2 linked regions of the Homo sapiens genome follow. The protein of the gene in region 2 purifies or fractionates together with the protein of the main gene of each other region. This does not show direct contact. Each region holds a gene or a part of one and is shown on either strand. Other genes may lie near its edges. The genes, in order: DNAJC10 and ZNF304.

Evidence for each region.
Region 1: the proteins of ZNF304 (region 2) and DNAJC10 purify together in Homo sapiens (co-immunoprecipitation; one large-scale study listed by IntAct). This does not show direct contact.

The regions. Positions count from the first base shown.
Region 1 is NC_000002.12:182,791,985-182,795,167, reverse strand, and holds the end of DNAJC10 (dnaJ homolog subfamily C member 10 isoform 1 precursor), read right to left. Parts: 3' UTR 704-3,183; downstream 1-703. UniProt on the Homo sapiens protein: Endoplasmic reticulum disulfide reductase involved both in the correct folding of proteins and degradation of misfolded proteins.
Region 2 is NC_000019.10:57,354,146-57,357,538, reverse strand, and holds part of ZNF304 (zinc finger protein 304), read right to left. Parts: intron 2,269-3,393; coding exon of another isoform or gene 2,128-2,268; exon of another isoform or gene 1,755-2,127; intron 1,510-1,754; coding exon 1-1,509. UniProt on the Homo sapiens protein: Acts as a transcriptional regulator and plays a role in gene silencing.

The sequences.
Region 1 (3,183 bases), on a different chromosome or scaffold from region 2:
GATAGGCGAGGATTTAGCACACTACACTTTTTCTCTTCTTCCTTACCTCTTCCTTCCCAATATAGTTTTATCACTGCTCTCCAAGTGTTGGGGGGAAAGAATTTTAGCTCCCCAATTCCCCCTACCCTCCTCCCCAATAAATGCAAATAATATCCTTGCAATGCCAACACAGCTTTAAAAAAATTCCCCTCACCTTGACTTTGACCGGATGGCCCTTCCATACTCTAGAGCTGCTGCTGCCAGTTTAACATCTATACTGGTTAATTTCATACATTCAAACACCTTACTTCATTTTCTTATCCATCTGCTGTAGCAATGTCACAAACTGGAAACCCCAGGCTGGATATGGTATTGTTTGACCCTCATATATTTAAATGTTTTAAGTAGTTGTGAACATTTGAAATATTTTACATAAAAACCCGGATTGGGGTAAATTCTGGGTAAACTGGAACATCTGGGTCTCTTTCTTCATGACAATACTCTTTTGGAGCAGAGAAACTACTGCCTTTTTAAAATAGTGCATGCACTAACTACCGTCATGTACTTTACCTACAAAACACCCTTAACTATGTGAGTTTGCAATGCCTGACTACAGCCTCACTTCACTCTGGAAGATAAGGACATTCGTACTTCTACCCGTCCTTAACCTGGGTCAGTGTATATAATTATTTTTATGTTGTTAAGCTGAAAATTGGTGACACAATTTGCATTTTTGTGACAAGTTTATTTCACTTCTACATGTTATAAAAAAACATAGCTCACTGCAAAGACAAACAGTAGAATCAAATCTAGAATGACATTTCTTACTCTGTAAGTTTAATGTGGTCATCATGCAAAGGAGAGAATCTGAATGGATTATTTCTATCCTTCATCTATTGTTTCCTATGTACTCAAATTTTTCTGAGGTCCGCAAATACGCATCTGACTTATTGCCTCATTCTTTCTCCTCAGAGACTTCTTTCCCAAGCTCTCTGCTCTCTCGCCCCATCTGCCCCAGGTGATGTTTAGGCCTCCTACTTAGCTGCTGTCCTGTGGATTTGTTCACTGCTCTCTTGGGTTGGAGTCACTGTTTCTTGGATCCCCATGCATTGTTGTTTATGCCTTCATTTGGAGGAGGTGTTTCATCACCTAACCACCTAAAAATATATTTATCATCTGCCTGCTACTTGTTAGTCTGGGTAGGTATGAATAGAATCCTAGGTTAAAAATATTTTCCTCTCAGAATTTGGAAGGCTTTGCTCCAAAGTCTTCTAGAATACTTCAAGCTCCAATTACTTTCTAATTGTTATTTTTTTGTAGGTAGTGTGTGTGTGTGTGTGTGTGTGTGTGTGTGTGTGTGTGTGTGTGATGTGTTTCCTCTCTGGAAAATTTTAGGATTGCTAAATTAAATAAGCAAGAGGACCTTGGCCTGAGGCTGTCTCCAGACTTTGAGTTCCCATGTAATAAATTGCAACCTAATTTAGTACTTAAATAAACTGAAACCTAATTTAGGATTATATAGATATATTTTTGTAACAGATAGGTCACAGCCAATTGCATGCTGCCAACTTGCCTTATTTGGAGCAGACCATGTCCAAATAAGGCAAATGCCTATCTGTAACCAATCAAGCTATTTCTGTACTTAATTTTTGTTTTCTGTCTATGAATGTTCACTGCATACCTCGCAAAGCAGAGCTCTCTGAATGTCTTCTGGTTCTCAGTGCTGCCTGATGGATGAATTGTTCTTCACTCAAATAAAATGTTAAATATATTTTGCTGAAAGTTTCTCTTTTACCAGGATCTTCTTTTTGGTTCTGGAATTTCACAATTTCACTGTGAGTAGAAGTTGAAGTCCTTACAAAAGTTAGAAAGCTAAAGTCCTTACAAGTGACCTGCAAAGCCCTCTATGATCTGGCTCCCCACTTTCTCTCTCCCTCTAACTTCATCTTCTCTCCTGCTAGCTCACTCCATTCCAGCCACATGAGCCTCCCTGCTGTTCCTTGAACCTGCCAAGCATGCCTTGGAGCCTGTCCTCTGGCCTTTCTCTCTGTTCATATGCTCTACCCTCAGCCCATTTAGTGGCTACATTTTTTCCACCTCCTTCAATGGCATCTTCTCCAAGAGACCTGCCCTGTCCACCCTATTTAATACCGAAACTCTCCTGCTGCTGCCCCCACACTCCTAATCCCTCATACCCTGGTCTACCTTTTTCTTTATTTCACAGCACATCTTCTAACATACTTCTAACATACTTAACATTTGCTTATATTAATTGTTTATTGTCTATCTCCCCACTGCGAGAATAGAATCTTCATGAGGTCAATACATTTAATACACTATCTTAAATGCATAGAACAAAGCCTAGCACATTGTAAGTACTCAAATAAATGTTTGCTGAGTGACATGGGGCTCATGTTGAGCTCATGTAACTTCCTCATAAATGATTTCTATTCAGGAAGGCCAAAGGAAAGATGACAAGGAGGATTACGATGTTCCATTAGCGGAAGAATTGAGTCTAACTTCACACACTTCTCTTGCAGATAAACTGGTTTGAGGTTATAGGCCTCTAATTTATCAAGAAAGAAACTGGCATGCATTTAGATGGACTGCTTAAGCCAATAGGTCTGTAATCTGTGGGGAGCAAAGAGGTGTTCTTTCAAACAATGAGAGGTTAAACAATACATTTATCAGATGGGACTTTTGTGAACATTGAGGGACAAAACAGGAAGCTGAAAAGGAAACCAATCAATTCTACCAGGGTTTATAACAGCTGTAATGAAAAGCCTTGGGGAAGGAAAGAAATTGGAATATATCCTCTTCATTATTTTTTGTACCTCAAAATGTTATCCTGTTCCACAACCCTCAAAACCCCTCACAAAGATAACCAACTACTGTAATCCTCATTTAATAAACATAGACTTCAGATAGTGCATTTAATTCTAATGAAACTTGTGCAAGATTATAGCATGGAGATAAAAAAATAATTGTTCACTGATGGTATGCAAGCATTTGTGAGGATTACTTATAAATTGACTTGAGCATCTCTTTTTTCTTTAATTTACTCTTTGAACATGTATTGAGTGTCAAGATGATGGCATGAAAAGTGAACAAGATTGTGTCCTGGCTTTGAAAGTTCATGCACTCTAGGACAGGGAAACATACTAATCAACAGGACTGAACTTATAAGGTGTTTCAGGATCCAAT
Region 2 (3,393 bases):
TTGCTCCTGTGTGAACTCTCTGGTGCAAAATGAGGCTGGAGTTGTGGCTAAAGCATTTCCCACATTCATTGCACTCATAAGGCTTTGCTCCAGTGTGAATTCTCTGGTGTACAATAAGGTTGGAGCTATGGCTGAAGAATTTACCACATTCACCACACTCATAAGGCCTTTCTCCAGTGTGGATTTTTTGGTGTTGCACAAGTGTGTCTTTACGGCTGAAGGCCTTCCCACATTCACTGCACTCATAAGGCCTTGCTCCAGTGTGAATTATCTGGTGCTGAACAAGTGTGTCTTTGCAGCCAAAGGCCTTCCCACATTTGCTGCACACGTAGGATCTTGCTCCTGTGTGGACTCTCCGATGTTTAATGAGGCTAGAGTTATGGCTAAAGAATTTTCCACATTCTATGCATTCATAGGGCCTTGCCCCGGTATGAATTCTCCAGTGCTCAATAAGGTGGGAGCTTTGGCTAAAGAATTTTCCACATTCACTGCACTCATAAGGCCTTTCTCCAGTATGAAATCTCTGGTGCTGAACAAGTGTGTCTTTACGGCTAAAGGCTTTCCCACATTTGTTGCACTTATAAGGCCTTTCTCCTGTGTGAATTCTCTGGTGCTGAACAAGGTGGGAGCTTCTGCTGTAGGCTTTTCCACATTCACTGCAGTCATAAGATCTTTCTCCAGTGTGAACTCTCTGATGCTGAACAAGTGTGTCCTTGCGGCTGAAGGCCTTCCCACATTCACTGCATGTATAGTGTCTTTTTCCAGTGTGAAATTTCTGGTGCATTTTTAGGTGGTGCAAGTGAATGAAGGCTTTTCCACACTCCTTACACACATGAGATATTTCTCCACTGTGGATTTTTCTGTGATTAATAAGAGCTGATTTCTCCTTGAACACATTTCCACATGGTAGGCATCTGAAGGGTCTCACCTCAGCATGAGTCATCTGGCTGTCAAGAAGAGTAAAGGTGTCCAGGAAGGCTTTCCCTTCATCACCGCAACTGAAAAGCATCTGTCCATCATAGTCTCCTTGGTGTTGCCTGAGACTGGAGCTGTGTGGGAAAGACTCCATGCATTCAGTCCTTCTGCATGGACTCACCCTATTGTAAGTGGTCTGGTGCTGGAAAAGGCCAGAGCTATCTGGTAAGTCCATCCCTTCCTCCCTGCACGTAAAGGATCTCCCTAACATGTGGACTGTACAGCTCTTCACAAATGAGGCCCCTCCATCATCCCCTCTGAAGCAATTCTCTCCATTATGTTGCTTCTGGTGCTGGTAAAAGTTTGCACTGAACGAGAATCTTCTCCTACACAGCCCACGTGTGCACAGTTTCTGTGTAAGGTGTGATCCCTGGTGTTCAGCCAGGTGCAAAATGTCTTTCAAGAGTGGGTCACACATCTCACATGGGTGTGCTTTCTGGAAAAGACCTGACTCAGCAGTCCTGACCTGTGACACTCCTTCTACAGAAACGCTCTGCTCAGAAGGTGCCTCATGTTCTGCTTCACACCAAAAACCTGAAAGCAAAAAAGAGCTGGTGAAGTGCATGCTGACTTTGGTGGGAGGCAGCAGCCCCATCACAAATGTGTGTCTAACACCAGTGCGAGTCCACTGGCTTGTTGGCAGGACAAGAGGGCCAGGATCAGTGTAAAGAAGGGCTGGTTGTCAGTATAGGGCCTCACAGAATGGAGGAACCCTGACTATGAGGTAAAGACCTAAAAACAATGGCATAGAGTATAGGGAGTATAGGTGAAGCCTCTACCTGATTCCTCTGCAAGAGAGTTTCAGCAGGGCCTTGGCCGCTGGTGTCAGGTGAGCTCTGTGCAGATGGGTATGTCCATGCCCACGAAAATCTGACTCCAAATAAGTAGCTCATTCTCACGGACTATTTAATGTGCAGAACTCATGACACATTAAAGTAAGCTAGTGTTGAAGAGAGCAATTGAAACACGGAGGCCAGAAAAGTGGGAAAACACCCAAAGGATGGAAGACACGTGAGAAATGACAAATGGAAAAAGTGCCAAGAATGAGGAAAGTAAAGTAGATGTGAAGAATCACTATGGGCCTTGGCAACAAAACACTGACAAACACAAAACAAGTTGAAGGTTCGATTTGAACCCAACCATAACAGATACCCTCTTCCAGCTCCCATTCAGCAGGGCCATGCCCTCTGTAGGTCTCCTTTACTGTGGCTGCAGTGATGTCTGCCCTGTCAGGCACCCAAGGTTTTCTGCCCCCTCCAACTGCGCAACTGCATGGGACTGGGAAAATGAAAGCTGTAACGCAAACAAAGGGCAGGTGAGTGGCGCAGGTAGACCCACTCCACAGAGAAAATAGAATGTTTAGAAAAAATACTCTCCAAGGCGGATGTACCAGGACAGCCCTGTAATCACCACAAGAAGTGACTGTGTCAGCCCCTGAAATTCCTGGCACAGTCAGGCCCCAGGAAATGTCAGCCAGAGGATGAGGGCAGAATCTAGGACAAAGAGGTGCAAAGATCATGACACGGACTCAGGCAGTGGGCACCTGAGCTGTGTAGAATCTGCTTAGCAGACTGAAAAACTCCCGAATCCTAACCTTTTCCTGCAAAGCTCTAGGGCAACAGATGTTCAGATTACCCAGTGAAGGCAGAAACACTGAACACAGCCAGCCCTAGAACCCACAGCACCTACTCTGGGAAACAAAGAAGGGAAGGAGAAGAGTCATGGATCTGGATGGACAGAAAGAGTGGCCCATGGGGAAGAGAAGAAGACTCAAACCCCACCAAGGACACCGGAGTGGGTGTAAAGGCCTGTGGAACACAGCCTCTGAGATGGTCCCAGTGATCCCTACCTCTTGGTACTCTTGCCCCTGTGTAAGCCTCCTCACTTGATTGTAAGCTGGATGGACTTACTTATTTCCAAGGAATAGAATATGGCAAAAATAATGAAATGACACTTTCAAGATTAGGTTACAATCCTGGGCTTCCATCTTGAACATTCTTTTGGTCACTTGCTCAAAGAGAAGTTAGCTTCTGTGTCATAAGGTACAATACAGACAGGCCACCTGAGGGAGGACTTTGGCCAACAGCCAGCAAGGAACAGTGCTCACAGTCCAACAAGCCACAAGAAACTAAATCTTGCAAAAAGCAATGTGAGTGAGCTTGTAAGTGGATTCTTCTCAGGTAAGACCACAACACTGGCTGAGAGCTTGATTAAAACTTCATGAGAGCCAAAAGCACCTGCATAAGAAGGTGTGATCAGGCTGGGCACACTGGCTCAAGCCTGTAATCCCAGCACTTTGGGAGGCCAAGGAGGAAGGATCGCTTGAGGTCAGGAGCTCTAGACCAGCCTGGGCAACGTAGCAAGACCTTATCTCTACAAAAAGTAAAATAGCCGGGCGTGGTGGCATGCACCTATAGT